3 linked regions of the Homo sapiens genome follow. The protein of the gene in region 1 interacts with the protein of each later gene in a pairwise test. Each region holds a gene or a part of one and is shown in the gene's direction. Other genes may lie near its edges. The genes, in order: KIAA1958, RWDD2B and THAP12.

The links.
Region 2: the proteins of KIAA1958 (region 1) and RWDD2B interact in binary tests that used the Homo sapiens proteins (3 or more experiments, as listed by UniProt).
Region 3: the proteins of KIAA1958 (region 1) and THAP12 interact in binary tests that used the Homo sapiens proteins (3 or more experiments, as listed by UniProt).

Annotation. Positions count from the first base shown.
Region 1 is NC_000009.12:112,573,689-112,581,042, forward strand, and holds part of KIAA1958 (uncharacterized protein KIAA1958), read left to right. Parts: intron 1-368; 5' UTR 369-392; coding exon 393-1,563; intron 1,564-7,354.
Region 2 is NC_000021.9:29,009,058-29,016,411, reverse strand, and holds part of RWDD2B (RWD domain-containing protein 2B), read left to right. Parts: intron 1-6,719; exon of another isoform or gene 6,720-6,817; intron 6,818-7,354.
Region 3 is NC_000011.10:76,363,948-76,371,301, reverse strand, and holds part of THAP12 (52 kDa repressor of the inhibitor of the protein kinase), read left to right. Parts: intron 1-5,329; coding exon 5,330-5,450; intron 5,451-6,869; exon of another isoform or gene 6,870-6,964; intron 6,965-7,354. UniProt on the Homo sapiens protein: Upstream regulator of interferon-induced serine/threonine protein kinase R (PKR). May block the PKR-inhibitory function of DNAJC3, resulting in restoration of kinase activity and suppression of cell growth.

The DNA of each region.
Region 1 (7,354 bases):
GACCATCTGAACCTCTCTGTCAGTGACTTTGGAAGTAAAATGTACCATGGAAAAGCTCATTTCTTTATTGCTTGTTTCTCTTTTTCTTTCTCTCCTTTCTTTCCCCCCTTAGGCAGGAATTATTATAACAATAAAGAAAAGTAACAAAATTTTTCTCCAAATCCCACAACCATCAGTCATCAGCTGTTTTTACTTTTCCTGGTATTCTCTTCCAGTCCCTGCTCATCTACAGCGACCTTAACTAGATTCAGTTTTGAAGTGCGTTTTTTTTTTATGCCAAATGATCATATTTGGAACAAACTGAAGTAATTGAGCTATAGGATTATCTTGGGTAATAATGGCTTCTTCTTTTGATTATTTCCCTTTAGGAGTGACACTGCTGATCCTGTAACATGGAGGATTGTCTTCATACCTCATCTGAGAATCTGTCCAAATTGGTCAGCTGGGCCCATAGCCATGGGACTATTTGCAGCCTCATTCCAAACCTGAAACACTTGCTTTCTGAAGGTTCCCATGGGAACCTGACAGCAATGTGGGGCTGTAGTGCTGGCCATGCTTATCACTGGCCACTAACAGCTACTTGCAGAGCTGGGTCCCAAGAGAGGGTCTGTTTCCAGGATAACAGAAGTTTTAACTCTGATAGTCCCAGTATAATCGGGGTGCCCTCTGAGACACAGACTAGCCCTGTTGAAAGGTACCCTGGGAGACCAGTGAAAGCAAAGCTAGACTGTAACCGGACCAGAGACTCTTGTGACTTCTCCTACTGTAGTGAGCCCTCTGAACTGGATGAAACTGTTGAAGAATATGAAGATGAGAACACCCTGTTTGACATGGTTTGTGAGTCTTCTGTTACAGATGAGGATAGTGACTTTGAACCCCAAACCCAAAGGCCTCAAAGCATTGCTCGCAAAAGACCTGGGGTAGTCCCATCTTCCCTCCATTCAAGCTCCCAGACGCAGATGGTTGACGAATGCAGCAATGATGTCATCATCAAGAAAATCAAACAAGAAATCCCCGAAGATTATTACATTGTGGCAAATGCAGAACTGACAGGAGGAGTAGATGGACCAGCCCTGTCCTTGACACAGATGGCAAAACCCAAGCCTCAGACTCACGCTGGTCCCTCCTGTGTAGGGTCTGCTAAACTGATTCCCCATGTCACATCTGCCATCAGCACGGAGCTAGACCCACACGGTATGTCTGCATCCCCCTCTGTGATCTCCAGACCAATTGTCCAGAAGACTGCTAGGGTATCTCTGGCTTCACCAAACAGAGGACCCCCTGGTACACATGGCACCAACCAACAGGTGGCCATGCAAATGCCTGTGAGCACATCCCATCCTAACAAACAGATCAGTATCCCCTTGTCTGCCCTGCAGCTGCCTGGACAGGATGAGCAAGTTGCCTCTGAAGAGTTCCTGTCCCATCTGCCCAGCCAGGTCTCCTCCTGTGAGGTAGCCCTTTCTCCCTCAGTTAACACAGAGCCAGAAGTGAGCTCCAGTCAGCAGCAGCCCCCAGTCGCTCCAGCCATAACCACTGAGGCCACAGCACAGTGCATACCAGGTATGGCACATGAGGCGACAGTGAGTCCCTCATCCACGCACGCCAGAATTCTGCGCCGTCAGCACTTCTAAAACCATTCACTCAGTTTGCTAGAATTCAGTCCTTTGTTAGTCATAGAAAGATAGAAACAATGACTGTGTTACATCCAGGTGATACTATACAGGAAATTCATAAGAATTATGGCCATATCTAGTTGACGTACCTTAGGGCTGAGAGGACAGCTGTAAGATTGTTCTGTTGATATTGCAGCGTTAGATTTAAGGTTGATACCTGTCAGCTGAATTTTTATATAGTAAAGTTATTTTTGAAAGTTTTAAAAATATGCTTCTCCATCAGTAGCAAGGTGTTTAGTTGCTGTTTGAAGCCAAAATAATGTTGGGTAAGGCATATCATGACAATAGACCTAATGCTTTTCGTATTATTTATTTGACTGAGCCAACTTGACGTTGCTATTCATTTTAGTTGCTCTGGTAGTTAATAAGTATTTTAAAAAGCAATGTACATTTCTAAAAGAGGTATTTGATCTTTTCTCTTAAAATTTAAAAGAATATGGAAACTTGCATTTCTGGAATCTGTGAGCCAATGGGAATGGATTGAGAGGAGAATGAAATAATTGTACGAGGCCCCTGCACCTGTAATTCTAACGTTCTAATGTTCTTTAATTCTGACATTCAATGTTTATTTAATCTGGGCCATTAGTATATAAAGGGGTTGGATCTCATGCTTTGGCTTCATGACTCAATTCTAGTAGGCTAGAATAGAAACGTGGACAAGGATGAACAAATGTGCAGAAATCTGTGGCATGTTTTAGTTTATTTCAGCCCTTCTCAAAAACGTCGTGTATTTTGGGAAAAGCTTCCTAGAAACCTGAGGCCCCTGTGCCTTCATCCTGAAACGTCCTTGGATTAAGTTGCTTTACAAACTTCTTTTTTCCAATTTTAGTATCAACTTTAAGATTCCCAAAGAAGACCTTTCATTTATGATTTTTTTGAAGACATAGTCATGGTGTTATTAAGAAGATATTCACTGAAAATATTTATATCCTGATTGAAGATTATGCTTTTCAGTTTATTCACTTTTATCTTTTTTTAAATAATAGTTTTATTGAGATACAGTTCACATATAAAATTCACTCTTTTAAAGTGTACAGTTCAGTGGGTTTTGGTGTATTCATAGAGTTGTACAACTATCGCTATTATCTAATTTCAGAATATTTTCATCACCCCAAAAAGAAATCCCATACCCATTAACAGTCACTTTTTCCCTCCTCTTAGTTCCTGGCAACTGCTAATCTGCTTTCTGTCTATGGATTTTCCTATTCTATATGTTTCATATACATGGAATCATATATTATGTGGTCTTTTGTGACCACCCTCTTACACTTAGCATTATGTTTTCAAGGTTAATCCATGTTGTAGCGTTTCTTTCCTTTTTATTGCCAAATAATATTTTGTTGTATGACTATACCATATTTTATTTTTCCTTTCATCAGTTGATGGACATTGGGGTTGTGTTCATATTTTGGCTATTATGAATACTGCTGCTGTGAACATTTGTGAACAGGTTTTTGTGTGGGTGTGTATGTTTATCTTGCTTGGGTAACTACCTAGGAGTGGAATTGCTGGGTCCTGTGGTAACTTTGTATTTAACTTTTTGAGGAGCTGTCAAACTGTTTTCCCAAGCAGCTCCATCATTGTACAGCCTCACTAGTAATCTATAAAGGTTCTTACTGCTCCACATTGTCACCAACACTTGTTATTTTTCATGTTTAAAAAAATAATAAATATCCTATTGGGTGTGTGAAGTAGTATCTTATTGGGGTTTTGATTTGCATTACCCTAATGACTAATGGTACTGAGATTTTTTTCATGTGCTTGTTAGCCATTTGTATATTTTCTTTTGAGAAATATCTACTCAAATCTTTTGGCCATTTTAAAATTGCCTTCTTATTGGTGAGTTTTTGGAGTTCTTTATGTGTGCTGAATATGAGATCCTTATCAGGTATATAATTGGCAAGTATTTTCTCCCATCCCATGGATTGTCTTTTTCTTTCTTTCTTTTAAAAAATATTTTAATGAATTATACTTTGATCATTGAATAACAATGTGGTCCTTGACTAATCTCATCATGAGACAAAATGTTATCTTTATTAGGCTGGTGAAAGTCTTTGTTCTAGGAAATCTGACTCTTGATATATGTAGGATATAAGTAGCACCTTTTCACTTAAATGGTTATGAACCTAGTTCTAGTTTATTTATTTATTTGAACTCTCCTGCCCCCCTTTTTTTTTTTTCATTTAAATAGGGTAGAATTCAGAAATGTATTTTGCAAAGTGGTCCAGTGTACCCAGTTTGGTGAGAGTATTAGTTGTGTTGCATACCTTTTCACTAATCCCTGCAAAGCAAGATGCAAGACTTTTCTGCATCTGCCTTGTGGATAGTAAATGAGGCACTGAGGCGCTTTGCTAAACCATATATGAATATATTACTGTCTCATTATTTTGGGAAAGAAATTCAGCCTATTTGAAAAAAAAAAAACGAATCCATTTATTATTGTGTGTATTACATTCTCTTAGGTTTTTTTCTTCCCTCATGGAAATTGCACTTCTTATATTAGCTATGAAAAGCTGGCATGGCCAAAGAGAGCACAGAATATATACTGTCATAAATTGTGATTTGGCTTTATTCTCAGAGGAGGATTAGTTTGGCTTGGAGGTAAACCTTTAAGAAAAACACTATGAAGACTGGTCATGACGATTTTCCAAGGATGGTCCTCATATTTTGATCCATTGTTCTCGGGAAGGGTATCATATTGCTAAGATGTCATTAGCTTTAGAGATATACTGTTTGAACTGGAAACAGCAGTGGGACAAATAAAAATCAGACTCATATTTTTCTTTTGAGTGAACTGTATAAAGTTAACATAAAATTTACTTTTTACTTTAGTACCTAACTAGATTCTGTGTTCTAAAGTTTTAGTTATGTGTTTGTGTTTGCATGTTTATTTATAGTAGATAATCTTTCTAAACATAGATTTTAAAAAATTTAGAATCTAGCACACCCAGATGTATGTGAATGACTTGGTTACGGATGGACCTTACACAGTTAATATGTAAAGCGTACTTGGGACTAAGCAAAGAAGACAGGTTCTGAAAGCTAAGTCAGGTTCTTTTAAAATGGATGCTCTGTACTGAGTCTTTATCAGATCATTGCAGAAATACTGCGTATCTTTAGATAATATTTTTAAAATAAATAATTTGACAAATGACTATTGAGTCAGCCAGAAACAAAGAGAAATTGTTCCATTTTGTTTGGTTTTACTGTTGCCATTTAAATTTGATTCCCATAGTGGAAAATCATCCCTACTTCTGTTCAGAGCTGAACTCATAAAATTATAAAATGTTAATCAAGGTATAGATAAAATCATTAATTTTCATGTCAATCCTGCCATACTGCTCAATCCAAATCTTAGCAAACAATGAGTAAAGAGGGCATCTATTATTAGAAGAATTATTGACTACCTACTAGTAGCTTGGATTCCATTAATTTTTGAGGTTTTATGTAAATTTGGGGCATTTGTCATAATGACATTTAAATCTCTATCGCATCATGAGTTAGGGTTTTATGTGTATATTATATTTCTTCAATATACTTACATACACATAGCTTCTTTTATGATTTTGTGTAAGGATCCCTTTTATTAATCAGCTTTTTTCCCAGTTCTGTGGTATAAGCAATCCATTTTTGCCTATCAGATTTGTATGTATATATATTTTTTCTTTTAAAAAAATTTATTTATCTTTTTCTAATAGATTCATATGGGTTCTGGATATATTAGAAATAGTAACTCATAATCTCTCATGTATATTGGAAATACATTTCCCAAGTAGCTCATAGTCTCTCACGTATATTGGAAATACATTTCCCACTTTACCATTAGCTTTTAATTTTGTTGATGACCTTTTTTAAGGTGTGAATTTTCTTAATTTTTATGAAGGCAATTCTTTCAACATCTATCAGTCAATCAATCTTTTCTGTCTTTGGTATTTTGCTTAGGAAGTCCTTTCCATACATTGGGATCACATAAATATTTCTCTGTATTTCCCTCTTATTCTTTTATGGTTTTCTTTCTCTCTCCTCTCCTCTCCCTTTCTTTTTTTGACATTTGACTTTACAGTTAGAATACCTTTTGGGGTAGAACCTCATGTTACTATTTTTGCAGGTAGTCAGGTGTCTCAGCTTCATTTGTTGAATAATTCTCATTCTCCGCTGAATTGATTCAGATACCACATTTTTGTTTATTATTGGGTCTCTTTCTTGTTTTCAGTTCTGTTTTTATTGATCTCTTTATTTTTTCTTCTGATTTTTACTGTTTGAGTATTTATTTGTATAAATTTATGGTGATTGTATTTTATACAAAAAATGCATTCAGAAAGAAATGTAGTCTAAGTCATTTAATATGCTTTTTGAAAAATTACTCATGTAAAATTGAGTTCAGTGAGCTTTTAAAAATTGATTAAGGTATGTATTACTGCCAGTTATTTGATCTGTGTTGACATAATAGATAATGGTTTCTCTTGTCAGAAGCAAAAAATCTGAGTTGAAATAAGTTAAAGGAGAGAATTGACTGCCTTATAGTCCAAGGACAGATTTTCAAACCAGCTTTCACTCAGGCTCAGACAGCATCAAGTTTCCCTCTTGCCATTTGCCACCTTGCCTTCCTCCCTATTAGATTCACCTGTTATACTTGACCCCTGCGTGGACCCAAGATGGTTGTGCTGCTGGTTTCTTGTCTAGCAGTAGACAGAACCTGTGTCACAGCATTCCCAGTCACCCCTAAATCACGCATAGGGGGATCAGGCCCCCACCCTGGAAATGGTATTGAGACCAAGCCTACACAAACTACATAGCTGAGTGTGAGCGTGGGGTGGAAGTATTCTTCCAAGAACATTCTAGGTATGATTCTTGAGAGGGGCAGTAAACCAGAGATTCCTACTACTGTTTATGGGAGGTTTGTTTTGTTTTCTTTTGAGCATTTAGTTTTTTTTATGTGGGCAGATAAGAAGAGTTGTTACGTGTTTTATTTAAAGGCAGTGTATATTGGAAAAGTGTTCTAAGTGTGGAAATATGTATAAATATGTGTGCTTGTGTATACATACATATATATGTATATATATATACATAGACACATATTTTATATATTTCTTTATTCCATGAGAAATATATGCCTCTTCTTACAAGAAGAAACAAGACTAACTGGGCACAGTGGCTCATGCCTGTAATCCCAACACTTTGGGAGGCCAAGGCGAGTGGATCACCTGAGGTCAGGAGTTCAAGACCAGCCTGGCCAACATGGTGAAACCCCATCTCTTCTGAAAATACAAAAATTAGCCCAGCGTGGTGGCAGGCGCCTGTAGTCCCAGCTATTCGGCAGGCTGAGGCAGGAGAATTGCCTGAACCCCAGAGGCAGAGGTTACAGTGAGCCAAGATTGTGCCACTGCACTCCAGCCTGGGCTCCAGAGCGAGACTCCATCTCAAAAAAAAAAAACACAAAGAAAGAAACAAGACTAAAATTTATTTTCTTAGCCATTTCTTAACCTTTTCCTGTAGTTTCCTGAAGGAAGAGCTGAGTTATAATTTTTGAAAAATAAGAGAGACAAAGTAAAAATTCAGCTTTTTATTTTTGCCATCATTTTCTTCCTTATCACAAACCGGGTACACATCTGAAGATTGATATGGCAGGCAGCTCTGGGCTGAGAGAGTGGAGCCTGGCCACCCGGAGCTTAGAGTCT
Region 2 (7,354 bases), on another chromosome or scaffold:
ATGCCTGTAATCCTAGCTACTTGGGAGGCTGAGGCAGGAGAATCGCTTGAACCTGGGAGGTGGAGATTGCAGTGAGCCGAGATTGCACCATTTCACTCCAGCCTGGGCAACAAGAGCGAAACTCCGTCTCAAAAAAATAAATAAATAAAAAATCGGAAAAAAAACAAAAGAAAACATTGCGATTAAAGGAGGGAGGAATATTTGCAGTTCCAACAGTTATTAGAAGAGGAAAACTTCAAATTAAACATGAATAGACATATTAATAAATATATGTTAATATATGTATAAATATTATCAAGGCTACCCACCATCTTTTATGATACTTTAAATGCTTATATTTAAACTACTTAAATTCAGGTAACTACATGGCAAAATAAGGAATCCTGCTCTGTTCTGTGGAGAGGAGGGCTAATGTCATTTGGCCTGGAAAAACATGTTCTGGAGTCAGACAGAATACTGAACACCCCTCTTGGAAATTCACAGTTTAAGACTCTGAGAAGTCACAAATAAGAATTGTGCCCATATAGTCTCTCGCCTAATTAGGATTGCTTTTGTCTAGGATAAATACCTAAACCATATGGGGCTGGGCATGGTGGCTCACGCCTGTAATCCCAGCACTTTGGAAGGCCAGGGTAGGTAGATCACCTGAGGTCAGGAGTTTGAGACCAGCCTGGCCAACATGATAAAACCCTTTCTCTACTAAAAATACAAAAAATTAGCTGGGCGTGGTGGCGAACACCTGTAATCCCAGCTATTCGGGAGGCTGAGGCAAGAGAATCACTTGAACCCAGGAGGCGGAGGTTGTGGTGAGCCAAGATTGTGCCATTGCACTCCAGCCTGGGCAACAAGAGCAAAACTCCATCTCAAAAAAAAAAAAAAAAAAGACTAGGTGTGGCGGCTCACACCTGTAATCACAGCACTTTGGGAGGCCAACGCGGGTGGATCACAAGGTCAGGATTTCGAGACCAGCCTGCCCAACATGGTGAAACCCCATCTCTACTAAAAATACAAAAATTAGCTGGGCGTAGTGGTGTGCGCCTGTAATCCCAGCTACGCAGGAGGCTGAGGCAGGAGAATTGCTTGAACCTGGGAGGTGGAGGTTGCAATAAGCCAAGATTGCACCATTGTACTCCAGCCTGGGTGACAAAGTGAGACTCCCATCTCAAAAAAAAAAAAAAAAAAAAAAACGCATCATAATCAAACTTCTGAAAACCAAAGACAATGAAAAATTCTTAAAATTAGTGACAAAAATGAACCTTATCTGTAAAGGAAAACAATTCAAATGAGAGTGATTTCTCATCAGTCACCAGAGAGGCTAGGTGAAGAGGCACAGCATTTTTCAATTGTTGAAAGTAAAAACCTGTTAAGCCAGAATACTGCATCCAGTGAAAATATTCTGCAGAAATGAAGGGGAAATCAAGACATTCTAAGATGAAGGAAATCTAGGAGATTTGTCACCAGCAGACCTATCCTAAAAGAATGGTTAAAATAGGTTCTCTAAACAGAAAAGAAATAATAAAAGAATTATTATTAAAGAAATATAATTTAGACCTATTTTATTTTACTTTATTTATTTTTATTTTTTTATTTTTAGAAGGAGTCTCGCTCTGCCGCCCAGGCTGGAGTGCAGTGGCTGTATCTCGGCTCACTGAAAGCTCTGCCTCCTGGGTTCACGCCATTCTCCTGCCTCAGCCTCCTGAGTAGCTGGGACTACAGGTGCCCGCCACCACGCCCGGCTAATTTTTTGTATTTTTAGTAGAGATGGGGTTTCACCATGTTAGCCAGGATGGTCTTGATCTCCTGACCTCATGATCTGCCTGCCTTGGCCTCCCAAAGTGCTGGGATTACAGGCGTGAGCCACTGCGCCAGGCCATTTAGACCTATTTTAGGACTGTTAAGACTGAGATGGTCTCTGCTGTGGTTTAATGTGTGCCCCAAAGTTCATGTGTTAGAAGCTTTATCCCAAAGCAATAGAGTTGAGTGGTGGGACCTTTCAGAGGTGATTAAGTGATATGCAGGGATATAACAAAAAATGTAACATTCCTGTCATCAGCATTTCAGAAGAAGAGAAAGAAGGCAGGGTTGAAAAAGTTCCCAAAGAACAGGGCCCTCACAAATGGATTAATGGTGTTACTGCAGGAGTGGGTTAGTTATTGTGGGAGTGGGTTCCTGATAAAAGCATGCATTTGGCCCCTTCATCTCTCTTGCACTTGCTCTCATTCTCTCTTGCCCTCTGCCTTCCGCCATGGGATGACTCAGTAAGAATGCCCTTGCAAAATGCAGGCACCATTCTCTTGGATTTCCCTGCTTCCAGAACAATAAGCCAAATAAATTTCTCTTCATCGTAAACTACCCAGTCTCAGGTAGTCTGTTATCGTAACAGAAAATGAACTAATATAACATCCAATAGAAATATACAGATATAGTTAAATTTACAAATATGGGGCTCGAGAATTTGGAACATCCTAAGAATTTGAGAATTGTGAACATTTAATATTCAGTAATACTTGGTACCATGAGACAATAGAGAAGATAAAGATGTCCTCAACCAAACCTTAAGGGATGCTAACATTTTAAAGATCTTGCTTGGCAGTAGTATGGTATGGCATATAAATTATACCTCATTAAAGCTATTAAAAAAACTACTGAAGGGAAAATTCTACGTTATAAACATATCGTCTTTTTCTGTATTAATCTTTAATTTCTTTTTTTTTTTTTTTTTTGAGACGGAGTCTCACTCTGTCGCCCAGGCTGGAGTGCAGTGGCGCGATCTCGGCTCACTGCAAGCTCCGCCTCCCGAGTTCACGCCATTCTCCTGCCTCAGCCTCCCGAGTAGCTGGGACTACAGGCGCCGGCCACCACGCCCGGCTAATTTTTTGTGTTTTTAGTAGAGGTGGGGTTTCACTGTGTTAGCCAGGATGGTCTGGATCTCCTGACCTCATGATCCGCCCGCCTCTGCCTCCCAAAGTGTTGGGATTACAGGCGTGAGCTACCGCGCCAGGCCTAATCTTTAATTTCAATGCAATTACCATTTTTTCTTGTTTTCAAAACTTAACAAAATTATTCTAATGTTTATATGTGAGAAAAGCCAGGAAATACCAAAAAAGAATTCTAGAAAAGAAGAGTGATGGCTATGAAGAGACAGAGTAGGAGCAATTTACTAACCCATCATAGTGATTTCAAGAGTTGAGTATTAGTTAGCTGGGTATGGTGGTAGCATGACTGTAGTCCCAGATACTTGGGAGGCTGAGACAGGAGGATTGCTTGAGCCTAGGAGTTCGAGGCTGCAACGAGCTATAATCGCACCACTGCACTCCAGCCTGGGTGACAGAGTGAGACTCTGTCTCAAAAAAAAAAAAAAAAAGAGTATTAGGACATGATATTATAGACAGATCAATATAACAAAATGGAGAATCCAGAAAAAGACTCAAATACATATAGGCACTTAACATATGTTGAAAGAAACATTTCAAATTTATTATAAGATGTACTGGTAAAAATGGCTAGTTAACTGGAAAAAAAAAATAAGCTGGAAACTTCCGTCACCTTTTAAAGTGAAGTATATCCCAGATGGATCAAATATTTAAATGCAGAAATTGAAAATGTATTCCAAATAGAAAATAGAAGACTTTTTTTTTTTTAATTGATCATTCTTGGGTGTTTCTCGCAGAGGGGGATTGGGCATGGTCACAGGACAATAGTGGAGGGAAGGTCAGCAGATAAACAAGTGAACAAAGGTCTCTGGTTTTCCTAGGCAGAGGACCCTGCGGCCTTCCGCAGTGTTTGTGTCCCTGGGTACTTGAGATTAGGGAGTGGTGATGACTCTTAAGGAGCATGCTGCCTTCAAGCATCTGTTTAACAAAGCACATCTTGCACCGCCCTTAATCCATTCAACCCTGAGTGGATACAGCACATGTTTCAGAGAGCACAGGGTTGGGGGTAAGGTCACAGATCTACAGGATCCCAAGGCAGAAGAATTTTTCTTAGTACAGAACAAAATGAAAAGTCTCCCATGTCTACCTCTTTCTACACAGACACAGCAACCATCCGATTTCTCAATCTTTTCCCCACCTTTCCCCCCTTTCTATTCCACAAAACCGCCATTGTCATCATGGCCCGTTCTCAGTGAGCTGTTGGGTACACCACCCAGACCGGGTGGTGGCCGGGCAGAGGGGCTCCTCACTTCCCAGTAGGGGCGGCCGGGCAGAGGCGCCCCTCACCTCCCGGGGGGGGGCTGACCACCCCCACCTCCCTCCCGGACGGGGCGGCTGGCCGGGCGGGGGGCTGACCCCCCAACCTCCCTCCCGGACGGGGCGGCTGGCCGGGCAGAGGGGCTCCTCACTTCCCAGTAGGGGCGGCCGGGCAGAGGCGCCCCTCACCTCCCGGACAGGGCGGCTGGCCGGGCGGGGGGCTGACCCCCCCACCTCCCTCCCGGACGGCGCGGCTGGCCGGGTCGGGGGCTGACCCCCCCACCTCCCTCCCGGATGGGGCGGCTGGCCAGGCGGGGGGCTGACCCCCCAACCTCCCTCCCGGACGGGGCGGCTGGCCGGGCAGAGGGGCTCCTCACTTCCCAGTAGGGGCGGCCGGGCAGAGGCGCCCCTCACCTCCCAGACGGGGCGGCTGGCCGGGCGGGGGGCTGACCCCCCCACCTCCCTCCCGGACGGGGCGGCTGGCCGGGCAGAGGGGCTCCTCACTTCCCAGTAGGGGCGGCCGGGCAGAGGCGCCCCTCACCTCCCGGACGGGGCGGCTGGCCGGGCGGGGGGCTGACCCCCCCACCTCCCTCCCGGACGGGGCGGCTGGCCGGGTGGGGGGCTGACCCCCCCCACCTCCCTCCCGGAAGGGGCGGCTGGCCGGGCGGGGGGCTGACCCCCCCCCACCTCCCTTCCGGACGAGGTGGCTGCCGGGTAGAGACGCTCCTCACTTCCCAGACGGGGTGGCTGCTGGGCGGAGGGGCTCCTCACTTCTCAGACCCAGCGGCTGCCGGGCGGAGGGGCTCCTCACTTCTCAGACGGGGTGGTTGCCAGGCAGAGGGTCTCCTCACTTCTCAGACCGGGTGGCCGGGCAGAGACGCTCCTCGCATCCCGGACGGGGCGGCAGGGCAGAGGTGCTCCCCACATCTCAGACGATGGGCGGCCGGGCAGAGACGCTCCTCACTTCCCACATGGGATGGCGGCTGGGAAGAGGCGCTCCTCACTTCCTAGATGGCAGGGCGGCTGGGCAGAGACGCTCCTCACTTTCCAGACTAGGCAGCCAGGCAGAGGGGCTCCTCACATCCCAGACGATGGGTGGCCGGGCAGAGACGCTCCTCACTTCCCAGACGGGGTGGCGGCCGGGCAGAGGCTGCAATCTCGGCACTTTGGGAGGCCAAGGCAGGCTGCTGGGAGGTGGAGGTTGTAGCGAGCCGAGATCACGCCACTGCACTCCAGCCTGGGCACCATTGAGCACTGAGTGAACCAGACTCCGTCTGCAATCCCCGCATCTCGGGAGGCCGAGGCTGGCGGATCACTCGCGGTTAGGAGCTGGAGACCAGCCCGGCCAACACAGCGAAACCCCGTCTCCACCAAAAAAATACGAAAACCAGTCAGGGGTGGCGGCGCGCGCCTGCAATCGCAGGCACTCGGCAGGCTGAGGCAGGAGAATCAGGCAGGGAGGTTGCAGTGAGCCGAGATGGCAGCAGTACCGTCCAGCTTCGGCTCGGAATCAGAGGGAGACCGTGGAAAGAGAGGGAGAGGGAGACCATGGGGAGACGGGAGAGGGAGAGGGAGAGGGTTTTTTTTGGTTTTTTTTTTTTATTTTTATTTTTTGAGACGGAGTTTCACTCTTTTTGCCCAGGCTGGAGTGCAATGGCACGATCTCAACTCACTGCAACCTCTGACTCCCAGGTTCCAGTGATTCTGTCTCAGCCTCCCAAGTAGCTGGGACTTCAGGCACGCACCAACACACCCGGGTAATTTTGTTGTATTTTTTAGTAGAGACAGGGTTTCGTTATGTTACCCAGGCTGATCTAAAACTCCTGGACTCAAGCTATCCACCCTCCTTGGCCTCCCCAAGTGGTGGGATTACAGGTGTGAGCCACCGTGCTAGGCCAAAAGGAACTATGTATTAAGAATTTTCTTTTAAAGAAAAGAAGCAGGGGACTGAGTACAATTGTAAATTTCTGTTCTGTATGGCAACTTTCTGGAAAGTAACTTGGCAATATCTATCAAAATTTAAAATGTACATGTTGATACAACAATCCACCTCTGTAAGTTTATTATTGAATACACAGTATTCAGTTTACCATACTATATATATAAAAAGACCTTGCATTATAGGATTGTTCATATTAGTAAAAATGTGGAAACAACCCAAGTGTCCATCAATAGGTAAAGAATTAAATAAGTTATGGCATATCTACATGATTCAGTATAACAGCCGACAGTTACAAAGAATGAGGTAGATCACTATATGTTGACAGTGAATAGATCTACAAAATATATTTGGTGGGGAGGGAGATAGGAAATAGGAGGAAAAAGTATATATTATCCCCTTTGGATTTAAATATGTATACTGTATATATCTCACATTGTACATATTTATACATTATACCAGCATTTTTCACATATATATATGTATAATGCTTAAGATGTTTTAATGTTAACAGGGGTGACTTAAGCTACAGGACAATTAACACTTATTTTCTCTTTATGTTCCTCTGCTTCTTAAAAACTAATAAATAGGCCGGGCGCAGTGGCTCACACCTGTAATCCCAGCACTTTGGGAGGCCGAGGCGGGCGGATCATGAGGTCAGGAGATCAAGACCATCCTGGCTAACACGGTGAAACCCCATCTCTACTAAAAATACAAAAAATTAACCGGGTGTGGTGTTGGGCGCCTGTAGTCCCAGCTATTTGGGAGGCTGAGGCAGGAGAATGGCGTGAACGCGCCGAGGTGGAGCTTGCAGTGAACCAAGATTGCGCCACTGCACTACAGCCTGGGTGACAGAGCGAGACTCCGTTTCAAAAAAAAAAAAAAAAAAACTAATAAATGCCATGCACAGTGGCTCATACCTGTAATGCTAGCACTTTGGGAGGCCAAGGCAGGAGGATTGCTTGAGCCCAGGAGGTCAAGACCAGTCTGGACAACATAGCAAGACCTTGTTTCTACAAATAAAAAATGAAGCCGGGCGTGGCAGTGCATACCTGTGGTCCTAGCTACTCAGAAGTCTGAGGTGGGAGGATTGCTTGGGCGTGGGAGGTTGAGGTTGCAGTGAGCGGGGATCATGCCACTGCACTCCAGCTGTGGTGACAGAGCTAGACCCTGTCTCAAAAAAACCTAATAAACATTAATATTTACTTAAAAAGAAGAAATTGAC
Region 3 (7,354 bases), on another chromosome or scaffold:
CAGCGCAGGGAAGGCCCCAGGATAGAAGTGAACACAGTTGTTTATCCTGAGAGTAATGAGAAGCCACTAAAAGCTTAAGCATGGGAGAGACATTCTCAAATTGGCTTTAAAAAATGCTCTGCAGCACGGAGAAGGGGTTAGAGAAGGGCAGATGACCAGTTTGGAAGAGATACTAGTAGACCAGGTAAAAAATTATGGTAGCTTGGACCAGGGTGTTATTGATGGAGAGAAGCAGATGGATTTGGGGAGTCATTCCACTGTGCTAAGGGAAAAGTCTACAAAATCTGGAGTACAGGGAACAGAACAATGACAGGGAGAGCTGGGAAAGGGGAGGCATTGGTAAAAATTTGAGACGAGTATGTAAGTGGGTATGTATGTATATAAATATATATACATATTCATAATACACATATGAATACACATGTGAAAACACTTATTGTGGTCATATATATATATATTTTTTTTTTTTTTCTTTTTTTTTGAGACGGAGTCTCGCTCTCTTGCCAGGCTGGAGTGCAGTGGTGCGATCTTGGCCTACTGCAACCTCCACCTCCCGGATTCAAGTGATTCTCCTACCTCAGCCTCCCGGTCATATATAATTTTTATAATTTTATTCATGTAAAAACGTATACATAGAAGAGCTACGTGCGGTGGCTCATGCCTGTAATCCTAGCACCTTGGGAGGCCGAGGCAGGACGATCACTTCACCCAGGCGTTTCAGACTAACCTGGGGAACATGGTGAAACCCCGTCTCTACAAAAAATACAAAAAGTTAGCCAGGCATGGTGGCGTGTGCCTGTAGTCCCAGCTACATGGGAGACTGAGGTGGGAGAATCGCTTGAACCCAGGAGATGGAGGCTGCAGTGAGCCGAGATTGCACCACTGCACTCCAGCCTGTGCAACAGAGTGAGATCCTCTCTCTCAAAAAAAAACCCCAAAAAACATATGCACAGAAGATCACAAATGATAACTGTACATCATGTTGGATTTTCAGAGTAACATATCCATGAAAATTTCACCGGGATTTTTAAAAAATAGAGTATCACTAGCGTCCCAAACTTCCTCTGCTTCATGGTTCTCCCAGCCATTATCCCATTCTCCCCAGTGGTAGCCACTGTGACTTCACATACCTTGGATTAGTTAGGTTTTGGGGGGAAGAGGGAGAATGAATGGAAGCTTTATTATTGTTTGAGATATAGAACATTAGCAGCACCTCAGTAGCCTCTTTTGTGCCCACTCCCAGTTGTTACCCTCCCCAAATGTATCTGCTATTCCATCACTGTGTTGAGGCGGAGCCAGACCACCCCATATTTAAAGATTCACTAGAAGGGCTTGCAGGACTCAGTATATGGTTGTACTCACAGTGAAGATTTATTGCATTGTAGTAAGGATACACATCTGGATCATGAGGGAAAAAGACAGGCACAGTCTGAAGGAATCCATGTATAGGCTTCCCTATGCTCCGTCTTTCCCATGAGGGGGTCACCCAGAGCCCGTTTTTCCCCAGTGGTGGAAATGTGGCAACACGTGCCGTGTTTCTGTGGAGAGAAGACCGTTAGAGACGTAGTGTCCGAGGTTTTTACTGGGTCCTGATCACATAGGCAGCCTCTGCCTGGCATATAATAAAATTCCAAATTCCCAGAAGGGATGGCAGGTGTTCAGCAGGTGTGCTTGTTTGCACAAGCAGTCTAGGCACATTGAGCTGCATTATCAGTTAGGAAAAATTTTATTTCTGTGTATGGAACTGTTTACCAACCAAGTTCCCGGATACCAGCCCAAGGTCCTTAACAAACAGGCCTTTCTAAGGACAGCAGCCTGAGGTCTGCTGTGTTAACTCTTTTTCTGAACAATCACTATGAATGAGTTTTGCCTGTTCTAGAATTTCATATCAAAGGAATCATGTAGTATGTACTCCTGGCTTCTTCTGCTTAACATTACGTTTGTGAGATTGTAGATAGTTTGTTCATTTCATAGCCAAGTAGTATTCCATTGAATGAATATACCACAATTTATCCATCCTGCTGTTGATGGGCAAAGTTACTTCACCTTCTCCCCAATATTTGGTATTACCTCTTTTACATTGTAGTCATTCTTGTGGGTATGTAGTAATTTGTTTTGGCTTTAATTAGCATTTCCCTGATGGCAAATGAGATCGAGCATTTTTTTTTCATCTATGTATTGCCATTTTTATAACCTTTTTATTATAAAGTGCCTGTTCAAGGCCCCTTGCCTATTTTTATGTTGGGTTATTTATTTGTAGGAGTTCTTCATATATATTTTGAATGTGAGTCCATTGTTAGATATATGTATTGCAAATATCTGACATTTTGTGGTCTGCCATTTCACTCTTAAATGGCTTCTTTTAATGAAGAAAAGTTATTAACTTTAAAGTAGCCTAATTTATATATCTTTTCCTCTAGCATTTGTGCTGTTGCCTTAAGAGATCTTTATTCCAAGGTCATGAAGATAATCTCCTGTGTTATCTTTTAGTGGCTTTATTGTTTTACCTTTCATATTTAGATCTCCAATCACTTGGAACTTATTTTTGTGTATGGTGTACAAGTAGGAGTTAAGATTTATTTTTTTCATGTAGATATTCAGCTGACTCGGCCCTATTTATTGGAAAAGAAAAATCCATATTTGCTGCTGTTCAGAGCTACCTTTAAGTATCTGCAGTGCTCTATTTTGTTTCACTGTTCTGTCCTTCTGCCAGTACTTGTCTTAATAAGCTTTACAGTAAGTCTTAATATCTGGTAGTGTAATTCTTTCAACCTCCTTTTTCCTCTCTCTCTCTCAAGATTATCTTGGTTATCCCTGGTTCTTTAATGTTGTGTATAAAAAGTTTTAGAATAATTTGTCATTTCTTTCTCTTGCTCTCTCTCACAAACTTACTGGGCTTGTGATTATATTGAATTAGTAAATGGGTTTGGGGAGAATTGACATCTTTGGAATTTAGTGTGCCAGTTCATAAACTTGTGTATTTATTTAAGTTTGCTTTAAAAAGATTATTAGAGGTCTTGCACTTCTTTCACTAGATTTATTCTTAAGTAGTTCATATAGAAAGTCAGGTGTATTTGATTAGGCTCTCTGCCTGATGCCCATTCTGTTCTTGATTGTCTGAATAAGAGTTGCTGTTGATATCAGAAAGCTGTTTCAACTTAGTTCGGAGGTAATATGTACAGTATTGCTCTGTGTGGAAGGTCTCCAGAGATTTAAGAATTTAAAAAACAAACAACTGTAGCAGTATGGCAAATTATTTTATAGTGAGATCGTTTTTATACTTAATATTTGGATTTTGAAACATGAAATGTTTATAATCATAATGTACAACTGTGTAAAAGTGTGATTAAATTGTGAACATCTTAGGCATCGTTACTGTGAGCAGTAATACTTGTTGGTCAAATGAAATGCTGTACAATTTAGGTGTAGTTTTTTAAAAATCATAGCATTTTACCTTGATTTGACATTTTTAGAGTAGAGAGAATTAAGTGTCAGGGGCATGTATGTTGGGGGGAGGTGGACAATAGTGTTAAAACATAAAAAAAAAATACTGTGATTTAATTATAAAGGAATATGTTGGGCCGGGCGCAGTGGCTCGCGCCTGTAATCCTAGCACTTTGGGAGGCCAAGGTGGGCAGATCACCTGCGATCTGGAGTTCGAGACCAAGCTAGCCAACGTGCTGAAACCCCATCTGTACTATAAATACAAAACTTAGCTGAGTGTCGTGGTGCACGCCTATAATCTCAGCTCCTTGGGTGGCTGAGGCAGGAGAATTGCTTGAACCTGGGAGGCAGAGGTTGCAGTGAGCTGAGATCACACCACTGCACTCCACCCTGGGCTAAAGAGCAAGACACCATCTCAAAAAAATAATTTGTGATACTGTTTATCCACGGCAGAACTTTTATTCTTAGAAATTTGAGGAATGGGCCGGGCGCGGTGGCTCACGCCTGTAATCCCAGCACTTTGGGAGGCCGAGGCGGGCAGATCACCTGAGGTCGGGAGTTCGAGACCAGCCTGACCAACATGGAGAAACCCAGTCTCTACTAAAAATACAAAATTAGCCAGGCGTGGTAACGCATGCCTGTAATCCTAGCTACTTGGGAGGCTGAGACAGGAGAATCGCTTGAACCCGGGAAGCAGAGGTTGCAGTGAGCCAAGATCATGGCATTGCACTCCAACCTGGGCAACAAGAGCAAAACTCTGTCTCAAAAAAAAAAAAGAAAAGAAAAGAAATTTGAGGAAAGATCTAGTTGTGACTTTAGCAAGTTACTTAATATTTCTGTGCCTTCATCTGCACAAGGGGGATATTAATAGTACCCATCTTTGGAAAGGACTTAGAACGTGTCTGGCTCATAATAAGTGCTTATTATTAGCTTTTCTGAAAATATTTAAGCACCGAGAGGGCATGGACTTTGTCTTGTTCTCTGTCTTCAACACTTTTTGTGTACTAGATTGTGTAGTCACAGTCCCTGCATTCATGGAGCTTGCAATCTAGTCAGCACGTATTACTGTAGATAATAATTTGTGTTCATAGGAAGATAAACGAATACAGCCTTTATGCTTCCCTTAGAAACTAGTTATTTAAAGAACATCTAGTTGCTGATTTTTTTTTTTTTTTCCGAGACGGAGTCTGGCTCTGTCACCCAGGCTGGAGTGCAGTGGCGCAATCTCGGCTCACTGCAAGCTCCGCCTCCCGGGTTCACGCCATTCTCCTGCCTCAGCCTCCCGAGTAGCTGGGACTACAGGCGCTCGCCGCTTCGCCCAGCTAATTTTTTGTATTTTTAGTAGAGACGGGGTTTCACCGGGTTAGCCAGGATGGTCTCGATCTCCTGACCTCCTGATCTGCCTGCCTTGGCCTCCCAAAGTGCTGGGATTACAGGCGTGACAACACGCCCGGCCTAATTGCTGATTTTCTACAGTGACAGTGTTGTTTTGTATGCTTGTTGAAGTTGAAATCCTGAAGGGAATGTTAAGCTGTGAGCCTTGTGGCTGTGCATGCAGCTTTCTGCTTGTTCTGCTGATGGTTGAATCTTCTCTGATGTTTTGGGAGTTGGAAGATGCAGGTTTCAGTTCTAGTTCTGCTGATGATTTTGTACTTCCCTCCAAACAAGTTACTTCTTAACCTTGTCTGTAATTGAAATGTTGGTACTAAATGACTTCTAAGGTTTTTTCCAACTGTTATTTTGTTATTAATCAAATTCTCCAAATTATGTTCTCAGGGAGGGGAGCAGGAATCCGTTGTTATTAATGTATGTTTGCCTTAAAACTGAAGGCTGAAATTTAAATGCTGAGCTCATTTTCATAATTGTATTTTGGTTTTATTTATAGATGCCAGAAGTGGGTGGAGAACTGTAGGAGAGCAGACTTAGAAGATAAAACACCTGATCAGCTAAATAAACATTATCGATTATGTGCCAAACATTTTGAGACCTCTATGATCTGTAGAACTGTGAGTAATAGAAGAGCTTGGTGTCTCTCTGTTTGACTTGATTTCTCTCTCTCACTGTGTCTGGTTGGAAATGTAAGTATTTACCAATGTTGGAAGGTATTCCTATATCCTGCCACTTTAAGATGAAGACAGATTTGGAGCTGAAAAGTATCTGTTTTGTTCTTAAAATCCTGATTTTGCCGGGGGCCTATAATCCCAGCACTTTGGGAGGCCGAGGCAGGAAGACCACTTGAGCTCAGGAGTTTGAGACCAGCCTGGGCAACATGGCCAGATGCCGTCGCTACAGAAAATACCAAAAAAACTAGCGAGGTGTGGTGACGTATGCCTGTAGTCCCAGCTACTTGGGAAGCTGAGATGGGAGGATACTTGAGCCCATGACGTCGGGGCTGCAGAGAGTTGTGTTCATGCCACTACACTCCACTCTGGGCGACAGAGTGAGCGCTTGTCTGGAAAAAAAACTCAAAATGATTAAAACAAAACAAAACAAAACAAAACTCTTCGGTTCCTGGTGCCCCATTTCTACTCACCCAAGGTAACTACTTTTTTTTTTTTTTTTTTTAAAGACAGTCTTGCTCTGTCACCCAGGCTGGAGTGCAGTGGCGCTATCTTAGCTCACTGCAACTTCTGCCACCTCCCCCACCTCCTGGGCTCAAGCGATTCTCTCTCCTCAGCCTCCCAAGTAGCTGAGATTACAGGCATTGTGCCACCACGCCCAGCTAATTTTTGTACTTTTAGTAGAGGTGGGATTTCTCCATGTTGGCCAGGCTAGTCTCAATCTCCTGACCTCAAGTGACCCGCCCACCTCGGCCTCCCAAAGTGCTGGGATTACATGTATGAGCCTCCACACCCGGCTGAGGTAACCACTTTTAAATATTATTTAGTCTTCAGGAAAATTTTAGATGATTATAAAAGTATATGTTTATTTAAGGTAAAGTTGGTGTTTTTATTTGGAGCTCTTTAGAGCTTTTTTATGAGTAAAATTTTCATCTCGGAATGGAGCTCTTGTTTTCATGTTTTTGTATGTACTATTAGAACCAACTTTTAATTTTTATGTGGTAGATATAATGGTAAACAAATTATCCAGGTAATGTGGAAAAACATTTTCATCAATAATATGTAATTTCATATCAGGACCTACTGTTAACTGTGTGAGCTTGGCCAAGTCACTTCCCCTCTTTGGGCCCCAGTTCCTAATAAGGAGATTAGGCCAGGTAATTCCTGAGTTCTAAGATTTTTAACCCTCTGTGATTCTCTTGCTGTGATTTATAAAAGGCACAAATAAGGCAAATTTGATTGAAATGAAGCAGACTTGTTTCAGTGTAACTAATGTAACACCTCAGATATTGGGATAGACATAAACTTGATTCAAAGGTACACTATATGTTGTTATGCAGCAATTTATTTTGATATTTTTTTCAGATACATTTTGCAGAGGCATCAGAAAACTAAAGAATGATTGGGTTATTTTATTTCTCAAAATTAATTGAAGCAGATACTTGTGAAGTCATTGGGAGGTGAGCCAATTCCGGTTCAACAGTTTAATCACAAATATTTGAGGAATATTTTTGCCTTGATTTGTTAAAAGGGTAATAATGATCAACCAAAATAAAAGGTTTCATATGTTTAAAAGGCAAACTACTTTTATGTTCTTGACATGAAGTAAAAATATCCCAAATTATTTTAAATACATTTGCCATATGCATTTTTGCATTTTTATTTTAGTAATAAATATGGTCTCTTAATTAGATAATTCTAACCAGATTGTGAGAAATTTAAAGGATAGTTCATTCTTACATTCTTTAGTTAGAGAATAGAACAGAAAGATGAGCCAGGTTTGCTTTTTTAATTTCTAAATGATTCTTCAATCTTGAATAAATGAACGCAAATGTGAGAAAATGTTCTTT